Regions from separate parts of the Homo sapiens genome. Here all the other regions are reported to be linked to region 1. The links are microRNA targets in miRTarBase. Many come from high-throughput screens and were not tested one by one. Region 1 holds a microRNA gene; each other region holds the end of a gene's coding sequence.

Evidence for each region. The annotated mature microRNA hsa-miR-4762-5p reads CCAAAUCUUGAUCAGAAGCCU and lies in region 1 at 2,271-2,291, opposite strand. An mRNA with a match to its seed (bases 2 to 7 or 8) in the 3' UTR can be bound and repressed. Matches are read on the target gene's strand: a 7mer-m8 pairs with bases 2 to 8, a 7mer-A1 pairs with bases 2 to 7 and ends in A, and an 8mer does both.
Region 2: miRTarBase lists CNTROB as a target of hsa-miR-4762-5p. Seed matches in the 3' UTR shown: 7mer-m8 at 492-498.
Region 3: miRTarBase lists ZNF514 as a target of hsa-miR-4762-5p. Seed matches in the 3' UTR shown: 7mer-m8 at 1,297-1,303.
Region 4: miRTarBase lists UGT2A2 as a target of hsa-miR-4762-5p. Seed matches in the 3' UTR shown: 7mer-m8 at 1,297-1,303.

Annotation. Positions count from the first base shown.
Region 1 is chr22:45,759,639-45,762,822 of GRCh38, reverse strand. It overlaps MIR4762 (microRNA 4762), which reads right to left and starts at 2,299; the gene lies at 2,225-2,299. All of the region lies in intron 9 of ATXN10 (ataxin 10), which reads right to left. RefSeq lists a silencer at 1-14 and an enhancer at 1-172.
Region 2 is chr17:7,949,249-7,952,432 of GRCh38, forward strand. CNTROB (centrobin, centriole duplication and spindle assembly protein) reads left to right here. Exons shown (of 19, transcript NM_053051.5): 19 at 137-672. The coding sequence ends at 262. Among named protein-coding and RNA genes, the nearest start is that of CNTROB, 19 kb to the left of the region's middle.
Region 3 is chr2:95,146,695-95,149,878 of GRCh38, forward strand. ZNF514 (zinc finger protein 514) reads right to left here. Exons shown (of 5, transcript NM_032788.3): 5 at 1-3,184. The coding sequence ends at 2,588. Among named protein-coding and RNA genes, the nearest start is that of ZNF514, 12 kb to the right of the region's middle.
Region 4 is chr4:69,586,819-69,590,002 of GRCh38, reverse strand. It overlaps UGT2A2 (UDP glucuronosyltransferase family 2 member A2), which reads left to right. Exons shown (of 6, transcript NM_001105677.2): 6 at 352-1,586. The coding sequence ends at 631. UGT2A1 (UDP glucuronosyltransferase family 2 member A1 complex locus) reads left to right here. Exons shown (of 7, transcript NM_001252275.3): 7 at 352-1,586. The coding sequence ends at 631. Among named protein-coding and RNA genes, the nearest start is that of UGT2A2, 51 kb to the left of the region's middle.

The sequences.
Region 1 (3,184 bases):
TTGGAGCCAAAACACAGGGGGAAGGCATCTGTCAGTGGGGGCTCCACAGCAGGGAGGGGAGGATGTGGAGAGATGGCTGGGGCCATGTGAGGTCACCAGCCTGGAGACAGGAGTAAGAGTGAGGTGGCCTCTGGGGGACCAGGAGGCAGTCCCTGAGGCCTGGAAGCCCCTTGGTTCATGCTCTGGGAGTCTGTGCTCTCCCTGTGGCCTAAACACATACACTCTTGCCCAGCTTCCCTTCAGCCAGCTGGAGAGCGAGGAGGAAGCACCCTGGCCAGACAGGAGCATGCCTGGGAGCCTCCCAGGAAGACACAACAGGTGTGCAGACACAGGTTCGGCTAGGGTGGAGCCCACCAACACTCAGCCAGAACATGCACCGTGGAAAGAATCCTGCTGCTGTGGTCTGCTTCTGACTGAAATCAACTGCTTTATCTGCTATCTATCATAACAAAGATAAATAAAAAATGAGATGTAGTCATGAAGCGGGAGTGCCTACCCTGGGTCAGGCCCTCTGTCAAGCAATGCAAAGACAGAGAAAAATAAGCCGAGGTCCCTGCGCCTCCAGAAAGAAACGCACGCTGGTCAGGGGAAACAGACAAAGGGCAAATAAATAGAAACACAGTCTCGGAAACGCACAGGGGACAGAGACTGACTTCCTTTCTACCTGTAATGTCAAGCTTTTCACTTTTTCTGCAATTGTTACAAGTAAAATACTATCTTTTATGAGTAACTTTTGTTGGTTGGCTCACTTAAACCATAAAGTGAAGTAAAAACATATGACTAAATAGGAAGTTTTTAAAAATCAGAAAACCTGGGAGTCAGAAGGCTCTTAAAGGCGAATATGGTCCATTCACCTGCTTCAGTTAAGACCACAACTACTTCATCCCAGTCAGATGTGTTTTTTTTAAAAGCCAGATTATACTTTAATCTATTTAAGTATAGTTTCAGCCCAACTGCACTGAAATCAACCTTTTCTGTTTTAGCCAACATTTTAAAAAATCTAACACAATGGTCTAATTTTTTAAAATTTTAATTAAAGGCCCATTTAGAAAAGTAACCAACTTTTGATATTCCCTGAGGTGGAACTTAAAACAGATTTTAATGTAACTGCTAACAAGGACTAAGCAAAAACTGGGAAGAAGTGTATGATAAAAAAATAGATAAATAAAGAGCAAAGGCTTGCATAAAATGTTCCAGTCACTGGATTATAATGCTTCGTTACATTTGATTTTTACCTTTTCGAGATTATACCTATGATACTGTATTACAATTTAACCAGTTATCACCTAGTCTTCCATAAAGGTTGGTGAGAAATGAAAATTAAGTAAACACAGTATTACATAAGTGCTTAGAAAAGTTTAACTGTGAAAACAATGAACAGATTTAAAAATATTCATTTGTTCATCCCTAAAAGTTTACAGAGCACTCACTGTGGGCCCGGAACTGTGCCAGGGGCCCTGGAGAGAATGAGGAGCAAACAGACATGGAGCTTACATGCTAGGCTTGTAGTGTTTTAGATGGTAATACAGTCTCTGCTCAAAATCACCAATATAAAAACATTAAAGTCCCAGCTACTTGGGAGGCTGAGGCTGGGGAATCGCCTGAACCTGGGAGGTGGAGGTTGCAGTGAGCCGAAATCACGCCACTGCATTCCAACCTGGCGACAGAGCAAGACTCCGTCTCAAAAAAATAAAATAAAATAAAATACTGAGGTCACCCTTGAAAACATAAGCCAACAATGAAAATTCAACTTCTTTCCCAAAAGGAAAACAACAATAATGAAACAGAATAAGCTACCTGAAAGAAAGCTTCCTCTTTCATTACTCTTTATCAAATTACTGTCTCTCACATATGTCCTTTTATTTCCAGGCTTATCACCACCCTCCAACCAGGCCTCCACTGCTGTAGCAACCTTTTAACTGGCTCAGGAATCCACTCCGCACACTGGGGCTCTTATCAGTGAGGATGGGCTGGTTCGTGCTGCAGTAACAAACAATCCACAAAAATCTAAGAGGCTTAAAATGAAAGTTTCTTTCTTTCTCATGCCACTTAACAGCTGTGTGGCCTTGGGTACACTACTGAACCATTCTGGCCCTCAGTCTCCTCATCTGCAACATGGGAGAGGTATCATCATTAAATGAGGTAAGAGACGAATACTCAGAACTGTGCCTAGGACACAGGACACACTCAATAAGCAACTACTATTGCTGTAATCGTTGTTATTCTTGACACCACAAATCTTGATCAGAAGCCTTCCTAGCTTCTGATCAAGGCTTCTGATCAAGATTTGGGGTATCAGAAATAATGGGATATGACTACACCCTATCATCTAGCCATCTGTCTCCCACAGTAGATCATGAGCTACTTGAGAACAAGGACTGCCTCTGACTCCACTGTTGAACTGCAGAGGTTCACAGAAAGTGGCACATGGTAAGCACTCAGAAAGTGCTTGCTGCACTAAAGGGAACGATGTTGAATAATAATCACTGGTACGTGAATAAACCCCACATGTGCTGGACATACACAGAGTCCCATATTAATGAGGGCACACTCTCAGATGCATCTGGCCCGCAGGAAACCTGACTAAAAGCACATGATGAAGATAGGGAATGTCATCTGTAGGTGGGAAAGATGGCTTTACAGGCCCAGAACCAAGCCACAGTTGAGCTAGGCCACCAGTACATGGGCTACTGCTCCCAGGGAAGTCTAAGCAAACGAAGGAGGATGTTCCACGTTGTGGAATTAGCACAAATCTATCTCCACGTGGGGAAAGAATGTAATTCAAGATTCCCCCTGTTCCTCCTTCCTTTCTTAGGGCCATCATTCCCCTGCCCCATGCTCTCCTGGCACACTGGCACACAACAGCCAGCATGGAAAAAACTTTCTGAGGGGATAGAGGTGCTCTCTGTACCTTGACTGGGGTGATAATTACACAGGTGCAGACATCTGTCAAAACTTATCAGCCATTCATTAAAAATCTGTGTTTAGCTGTATGTAAATTAGAAAGAGAGAGAAGCAAGCGATGGACAGTGCTGACTGTTATATGGTCCCTTAGCTCATGCCGGCAGCTGAGGTGTGACCCCATCCCACCCCATCCCCTACAAAACTAGAGCTTTATGAAGGGCAGGGTGGCTGGGAGGGAGGAGCTGATGCAGCTTGGTAAACTGGCCTCTGGAGGACATTA
Region 2 (3,184 bases), not on the chromosome of region 1:
CCACCCCTGCATTCTGTAGCATGGCCTTTCCTCCCTGCAGACTCATCTGGCCCTCTCCACGTGCATTTCCTCAGTGGGGTGGGGAATTGAGAGGATCTGACGCTGATTTCTTCCTCTCTCTTCCCTCAACTCTCAGATTCCCTCCCAGGCTGTCCCTCGCCGCCTTGCTACAGCCCCCAAGACTGAAAAACCTCCCGCACGGAAGAAAAGTGGGCACCCTGCCCCGAGTAGCATGAGGAGCCGGGGGGGAGTCTGGAGATGAGCCCCCCTACCCTCTCTCCTCTTTGTTCTCTCATTGTTGTTATTTTAATAAATGCTCATTAGTCTGTATCAGAGTCTCTGGCTCATAGGAATTTGGAAAATAGAGGTTTTGTAGGGAATCACTTCGTAAAGAAACCACATTTGGTTGAGTACTTTTTTTATATGTTACATGTTTATATGTCATTTCCTGTGGGAAAAGACATGAATGCTTTGGAAGACGGTCTATGACAAGATTTGGAAAGTTGGGGCGGCTAAGATTCAGTGGACAAAGCTAAAACCTGCAGAGCAATGAACTCTGGGTGGTAGTGGAATTATGGGTGATTCTTAGTTTTTTAATACGTTTCTGTATTTTCCAAATTTTCTAAAACAAGTATATGTTACTTTAATAATCAGAACAGACCCAAACTTTAATAAGAGTAAGTTATTGTATAAAGAGTTTGAGTTAAAATTTGGTTGTTGGGGAGAAAGTTTTCTAAGGGAAAATAATTCTTTCAGGTTGCATTTGTAGGATTCAGATTGGCAGATTCTACTCCAGCCAGCAGACATATTGTTGCTATAGTCTTCACGCTTACAGCTTTAAAACGTGTAAAAGACTAGAGTGCTGGGTCCTAATTAAACAAAAGAGTTTCTGCACAGCAAAAGAGACTGTCGACAGAGTAAACAGACAGCCTACAGAATGGGAGAAAATATTCTCAAACTATGCATTTGACAAAGGTCTAACATCCAGAATCTATTAGGAACTTAAATCAACAAACAAAAAACAAATACCTCCATTAAAAAATGGGCAGAGGACCTGAACAGACACTTCGCAAAAGAAGACATGCAAGCAGCCAACAAACATTTGAAAAAATGCTCGTTAATAATCATCAGAGAAATGCAAATCAATTTAATGCAAAACCCCACAATGAGATACCATCTCATACCTATCAGAATGACTATTATTAAAAAGTCAAAAAACAACATGCTGGCGAGGCTGCAGAGAAAAGGGAATGCTTATATAGCTGTCAGTGGGAATGTAAGTTCCGCCACTATGGAAAGCAGTTTAGAGATTTCTCATAAAACTTAAGAGTTACCATTTCACCCAGCGATCACATCACTGGATATATACCCAAAGGAAAATAGGTCATTATTCCAACAAGATACATGCATTTATATGTTCATTACCACACTGTTCTTAATAGCAAAGACATAGAATCAACCTAGATGCCCATCAGGGGTGGATTGGATAAAGAAAATGTACATATACACCATGGAATACCACACAGCCATGAAAAAGAATGAAATAATGTCCTTTGTAGCAACATGGATGGAGCTGAAGGCTATAATCTTAATTAAGCGCGTTAGTGCAGGAACAGAAAACCTCATACTACATGTTCTCCTAAGTGGGAGTAAACATTGAGCACATGTGAACATAGACTTGGGAACAACAGATACTGCAGACTCCCAGAGCAGGGAGGGAGGGAGGGAGGGGGACGCGGGTTGAAACACTACCTAATGGTACTATGCTCACTACCTAGGTGCAATATACCCACGTAACAAACCTGCACATGTATGCCCTGCATCTAAAATAAAAGTTGAAATTGAGGCTGGGTGTGGTGGCTCACACTGTAATCCCAGCACTTTGGAAGGCCGAGGCAGACAGATCACTTGAGGCCAAGAGTTCGAGACCAGCCCGGCCAACATGGTGAAACACTGTCTCTATTAAAAAATACAAAACATTAGCCGGGCATGGTAGTGGGCACCTGTAATCCCAGCTACTTGGGAGGCTGAGGAAGGAGAATCACTTGAACTTGAGAGGCAGAGGTTGCAGTAAGCCAAGATTGTGCCACTGCACTCCAGACTGGGTGACAGAGCAAGGCTCTGTCTGAAAAAAAAAAAAAAAGAGAGTTGAAATTGAAAAAAAATAGACTGCTGGCAAGAAAACTAAACCATGTTTATAAAACTTCCATTTAAATGCTCACTAAAATGGACAAAGAAAAACAATACTAGGGAAGAAAATAACGTAGACATGAAATTTAAAAAGGCCCCAAATTCATGGTACAAACACTGAAAAGCACTCAGTCAAACTGAAACTGGAAGAGGATATCCTACCTTGAGACTCACACGCAGCTCTCAGCTCTGGCACATGGTGCAGGGTAGTGGTGATGGCAGGTACAATTCTGAAAGTGGTGTTGGCAGGTAAGAGGTGGGTGTTTGAGGGACAGAGTTTACCAGATTCTGAGAAGAAGGCAGGGCCCTTCTATCTGACCCTGAGTTATACACATGATAGGATGTGGATTCATAGAGTGTTTTGTACTAATGTTTGCATTTTACTTCCACCTAAGTAACTTTCTAGCCCCCAGGGGACGGGCAAAGGAAGAAAAGGTGAAGATGAATGACCAGACATGTGGGTTGCCCTGCTCAGCTGTGTCAGAACGGCTTGATCCTCAGCCCCGCACAGGACCACTCTCTGGCATGCACCAGCGGAGAAACTGGAGGCACACTGGCGCAGGAGCAGCCCCAGGCTTGAGGGCTTTTCCAGCCCTGTCTGTTTACCCACGTATGGAAATGTTTACTTTTCTATTTTTTACCTTAAATATGTAACACTGGTTTGACCAAACTCTCAGATTCATGGCACACTATCATCATTGGTAGGTGATGGTTTGCTACGGTTTTTAATAGCTGGTAAAGTGAACACCCAGTTCATTCTCCTCATTATCTCCTGGATTCCCGCCTACCGCCATCAGTCAGTATGCCCTACATTTTTCTTGACGTGAAGCACAGCCTGGAGAATATTCCCTGAAACAGCTCTTTAAACGCAATCCAAAAAAGGCATCATGCTGACTTAACCATGTTATGAGGTGAGTAAAACAACGTTGATTTTTAAAACTGTATATATTGGCTGGGTTCGGTGGCTCATGCCTGTAATCCCAGCACTTTGGGA
Region 3 (3,184 bases), not on the chromosome of region 1:
GTTAATATGGCAAGGATACATGAGAAGAGGAGACAGATTTTGGACGAAGACCAGTTACAAAATTGTGACAGATGTCTAGGTATAAAGTGATCTGGGTAGGTACAGAAAAGGGCACTGGGAAAAAAGGGAGAGACGGAGCAAGAAAATATTTGCTATTTCTGCTCCTGTAAACCTTGGCTGTCCAGGAATAAATTTCTGTGTGATCTTGACCTCAGCTGTCCAAGTACTTCCAGATCCAGATGCCTCCTGTGCATCCTACCTGCCCTGGCCAACCTTGTGGACTCTTAGACCCAGCCTGTCTGCATGGGCCCACTTTGAGCTGGTTCCCTGAATTCTGGGCTCAACTTCCTCATCTGGACTTTAAATGCTTAAAGTATTTTCCTCAGTATAAGCTAATCCTTATTAGGCAAGTATCCTTTGGTCTACGCCAGCTCCTGGTCTAGGCTTCTCCACCTGAGTTACAGAGCCAACATGGTAGGAACTTTAAAGCAGAGCCTGACAAGGTTCTGAGACCCAGTAAATGTAGGGGTAACTGTTACAGAAAATAAAAAGTGATACCAAAAATGCATAGATGGCTTGAAGTAACAAACAAAACAGGAATACTTGTTTAGCAATGGTTGGTATATGTGTAAATTTGATTTTGAAAAATGATTTTATTGAGGTATATTTACCATAAAATCTGCCCATATAAAGTGAACAATTCAATGATTTTTAGTGAAGTTACCAAATCGTTCAACCATCACCACCATCTAGTTTTAGAACATTTTCGTCACCCTAAAAAGATTCCTTGTAACATTTGCAGTTACTTTGTTTCTGAAGATCTGCCATTTCTGGACATTTCCTAAAATGGTACTAGAAAATACCTGGTCTCTGGCATCTGCCTTCTTTCACTTAGAATCACGTTTTTGAGATCTGGATTGTGCATAATACCCATATTTTAGTTGTTTTTTTTTTTTTTTTCTGAGACGGAGTCTCACTCTGTCTCCCAGGCTGGAGTGCAGTGGCGTGATCTCGGCTGACTGCAAGCTCTGCCTCCCCGATTCACGCCATTCTCCTGTCTCAGCCTTCCAAGTAGCTGGGACTACAGGCGCCCGCCACCATGCCTGGCTAATTTTTTTGTATTTTTAGGAGAGACAGGGTTTCACTGTGTTAGCCAGGATGGTCTCGAACTCCTGACCTCGTGATCTGTCCGCCTCGGCCTCCCAAAGTGCTGAGGTTACAGGCGTGAGCCACCGCGCCCAGCCTATTTTAGTAATTTTAATGTTTAAACAAGGTTTCATTTCATTTCAAAAATTCCAAATCTATTAGCATAAAGATGTAACAAAAATTGCTTTTTGCTCAATCCTAGACCACTCCATTGCCTCACAAAGAAAGGTAACATGTGCTACAGAGAAAGAAGTGCATAGAGGTGTTGTACTGCAAAGATCCAGTCTATTAATCTCCATACTACAGCTGTGAACCACAGGAAAGAGGCCCAGCCCAGTTAGGACTATAGGCCAAGGCATGTCACTTTCTGAACATCAGTTTTATTAGCTCTAAAATACGACTGGGCTAGATCATGGGTAGCTGTCTACCTTTCTCAGCCTCCATCCTCTGCACCCATGCATGACACCCTGCCCCGTCAGTAACAGCATGAGGAGGCAATGCACAAGTGTCGTTATACAAATGGCCCCACCAGGCAGAAAATCACCAGACAAGGTGATTTCTCAGCTTCTTTTCAGCTCTAGTTTTATACATCTCAAGTTGGAAAGGAACTTTCCTCACATTCATCATGTTCCCAAGGTTTCTCTTTGAGATGAATACTGAAGCTTGAACTCTACTAATGGGTTTTCCCAGTTTCACTAAATTTGAAGAGTTGCTCTAGCACAAATTCTCTAATGTACAAATTCTCTAACGTGTTTTGGTGGAACATCCACCAAAGCCCTTCCCACATTCATCACGTCACCAGAGTTTCCAGCTAGTAGGGAGAGTTCTAAGGGGTTTATAAAGCAATGAGGTTTGGCTGAAGGCTCTCCCACATTACCCACATTCACAGGTTTTTCTCAGGTATGAATTTTCTGATGCTTAATAAGGGATGAGCCCTGACTGAAGGCCTTCCTCTATTTCCTGCTTTCATAGGGCCTCTCTCTAGTATGTGTTCTTGATGCTTAGTAAAGGAAGAGATACAACTGAAGATTTTTCCATACTTACCACACTTGTAGGATTTCTCTCCAGTACAAGTTATCTGATTTTCTTAAAGAATCAGTATGTAACTGAAGGCTTGCCACACTCACTGCATTGATAAGGCTCCTCCCCAGTGTCGGCTGTCTGATGCTGAATAATATGCATCCTCTGATCAAAGCGTTCCCACATTCATTACATTCACGTGGTTTCTCACTAGTATGGATTCTCCCATGTTTGGTAAGAGAGGGGAAGCCCACCCCCTCTTGACATTGACAGGGATTCTCTTTAGTAATTATTGCCTGATGTGGAACAAGATGTGGTCTTCCCACATACATTACACCTTTAGGATCTCTCTCTGATATGAATTCTTTAAGTTCCAGTGATGTCTGCACTCCAGCTGAAAGCCCTTCTATATTCACTGAATTTATAGGGTTTTTTTTCCAGCATGACTTCTCTGATGTTTAATAAGGGATGCAGTATGAGCAAAGGCCCTTCCACACTCATTACATTTGTAGGGTTTCTCTCCAGTGTGAAATCTGTAATGTTGAGTGAGAGATGAACTCTGGCTGAAGGCTCTCCCACATTTATTACATTTGTAAGGTTTCTCTCCAGTATGAAATCTGTAATGCACAATGAGTGATGAGCTCTGGCTGAAGGTTCTCCCACATTCCCGGCATTCATAGGGCTTTTCTCCAGTATGAGTCCTCTGATGCTTAATAAGGGATGAAGTGTGACCAAAGGCTCGTCCACATTCATTACATTTGTAGGGTTTCTCTCCAGTGTGAAATCTATAGTGCAGAACAAGAGACGAACTCTGGCTGAAGGCTCTCCCACATTCACTGCATTCATAGGGCTTTTCTCCAGTATGAGTTCTTTGATGTTTAATAAGGGATGAAATATGACCAAAGGCTCTTCCACAGTCACTGCATTCATACGGCTTTTCTCCAGTGTGACATCGCTGATGGCGCCTAAGTTCTGACTGGAAGTGAAAGGACTTCCCACACTCATTACATTTACAAGA
Region 4 (3,184 bases), not on the chromosome of region 1:
CACAGTATTAGGTTATGTACCATCTTGGTATTGGAACCATCCTACAGTATAGCTCACACAGTATCAAAATTATTTTTGGAAAAATTATGCTAAACATCTATATTTACAACTGGCTTACTCTACTTTTTTATGTCTACATTTGATCATACTGTGTTAAGCATATATTTCATCCATATCTTCCTTTTTGTAACTCTTAAAATCCTATACAACTAACAAAGTTCATGCAAGAATTATATTTTCTCCACGTAACTATGGCCTTAAACTTGTAGAGCAAAAGTGTATCACATATTTATCTTCAATGAAAATAAAAACAAAAATTGTCTAATTTCTGCCTATTTATTTGTCTTCTAGTTATAAAGAGAATGCTATGAGGTTATCAAGAATTCACCATGATCAACCTGTAAAGCCCCTGGATCGAGCAGTCTTCTGGATCGAGTTTGTCATGCGCCACAAAGGAGCCAAGCACCTTCGGGTTGCAGCCCATGACCTCACCTGGTTCCAGTACCACTCTTTGGATGTAATTGGGTTCTTGCTGGTCTGTGTGACAACGGCTATATTTTTGGTCATACAATGTTGTTTGTTTTCCTGTCAAAAATTTGGTAAGATAGGAAAGAAGAAAAAAAGAGAATAGGTCAAGAAAAAGAGGAAATATATATATTTTTAAGTTTGGCAAAATCCTGAGTAGTGTAGTCCTATTAATTCCAGACAAAAGGAGTTTAACAAAAACACGTCTCCCATCCTGTTTCCAAATTTTCTATTTCTCTACCTGCGATAAGCCTACTGATAAAGCCTAGATTTTGGCATGATTATTATTAACTTGTGAGTTATAGTCTTCTATTTTTCCTTTGTCTCTCCCTGCTGACTATACCCTCTTCCTGTCACTTTTCTGACACAAGGATACTACCTAATTTTAAATATGTTCTATTCATAGTATCAAATTATTTTATCGTTAACCTTAATTAATGATTAACAATATGCTGAATCCTGGTAATGCATACAGTGTAGATGGAATTTGATAGGTGTAAGGAAGAGTCAAATTCACAAATTTCCATATACCAAACAAATCAGGGAGCCACCGTAGGAGAGTAGTGTGTTATGAGAAAGGTAATGATTTCCTTTTTTAATAAAAACAAACTCTTCTGCTTGCTCAATGTTTCAGGAGTTAGAGAATGAATTTTAAGTGTGACGTGCGTCCCTATTAAATGTCTACAAAATTTTCATTAAGCATATCTAGAAAATCACGGCATAACTTGCCTGCCTTTCTTCAACATATATTCTTATATAACCTGTAGTGGAAGATTTGGGTACTGTCTTTAATAAATCAATCAATCGACTCTTTTATTTCAAGGAGAAAGTTCTATGTTATATGTTGAAGGTGAACAGATCATATTTAGAGGATATAACAATTAGAAATCTAGAAAATAATTATCATTTTTATAAAATTTTTAGTCAACTGTACAAATAATTACATAAAACATCAATTAATTATGCTTAAAAATCACTAATGTTCATAATATATAATCACTATTTGTAATCAAAAGTTTAATTTTATGCCAAAAAATAAAAAATGCTTACTTGGAATTTGATATCATTGCATTATTTTTGTCTTTATCTTCCACAAATTTTAATTTATCAATTAATTGTTATGCTATGTATATAAAAGACTAAGAGCTTCACCAAGGATATGGCATAATAAATGTTTATCAACGGAAAGCATAGTTGAAGGCAAATACTTTTACTTGATTCAGCCTTGCATTAATTTAATAAATATATTAAAGATTTTGCTTTCTTTACCCTTTATAAATTTAATGACATTTCTAGCTAAAGTGTTAATTTCAATATTTGAAATTGAGAAGATAAATTACATTCGTTGCCTTAGTGATATTTTTGAAATTCTTCTTTCTTTCACTGTTTCTTTTTTCAATTTTATGTTATTTTAAGTTCCAGGATACATGTGCAGGTTTGTTACATAGTAAACGTGTGCCATGGTGGTTTGCTGCACCTATCTGCCCATCACCTAGGTATTAAGCTTAGCATGCATTAGCTATAGGCATATAGCTAGGCATATACTCAATTTTAATAGTTTGTAAAATCTAGAAATATAGCCAAACATAGAGTCAATTGATATTTGACAAGAATGCAAAACTATACAATGGAGAAAAAACAATATCTTTAACAAATACCAGTGGACAAACTGATTATCAGTATTCAAAAGAATAAAATTGAACCCCTTACCTCAAGTCATATATAAAAATGGACTCAAAATAGATTAAAAAAAAACTAAATGTAAGATCAAGAACTATAAAACTCTCAGCAGGAAGAATATGGGTATAGCTTTCTTTCTAACCCTGAATTTTGCAAGGTTTTTAGATATGACACCAAAAGCAGAAGCAATCAAATTAAAATTGATAAATTGGACTTCACTGAAATCAAAATTTTTGTACATCCAAACACCAGCACTAAAGTCTGAAGAGAAACCAGACTTTGGAGGATATAGTTGCAAATTACATACATGGTAAATGACTTGTGTAAGAAATTTATAAAGAAAGCTTACAGCTCAATGATAAAAAAAAAATGACCCAATCCAAAAATGTGCATAAGATCTGAACAGGCATTTCTCTAAGGAATATGTAAATGTCCAATGAGGACAAATGAGCAAATGTAATGTCCAATAAGAACAAATGAAAAAATGCTCTGCATCATTAAGTTCAACATTATTACAGGAAAATTTAAGTAAAAACCACAATGAGATACCACTTCACCCTCACTAACATGGCTATTATCAAAAAGATAAGTAATTAAAAGTGTTGGCAAGGATATGGAGAATTTGGAATCTTCATACTTTGCTTGTGTGTATCAAAAATTATTCAGGCACTTTGAAACAATCTGCCAGTTTATTAAAGTTTAAACAGAGTTACAATATGACCCAGCAATTCTACCTCTAGTAATATACCAGACACAAATGGCAATAGGTCTATACAAAATTAATACATGCATGTTGATAACATCTTAACCAAAACTGGAGAGAAAACTACAGTTCATCACTGATAAATGAATAAACAATATGTTTTAGAATATTATTTGGCAATAAAAATAATAAAGTCTTGATGCATGCTATACCATTAATGAGACTTTTTAAAACATTATACTAAGTATAGATGCCAAACAACAAAGATCCTTCATA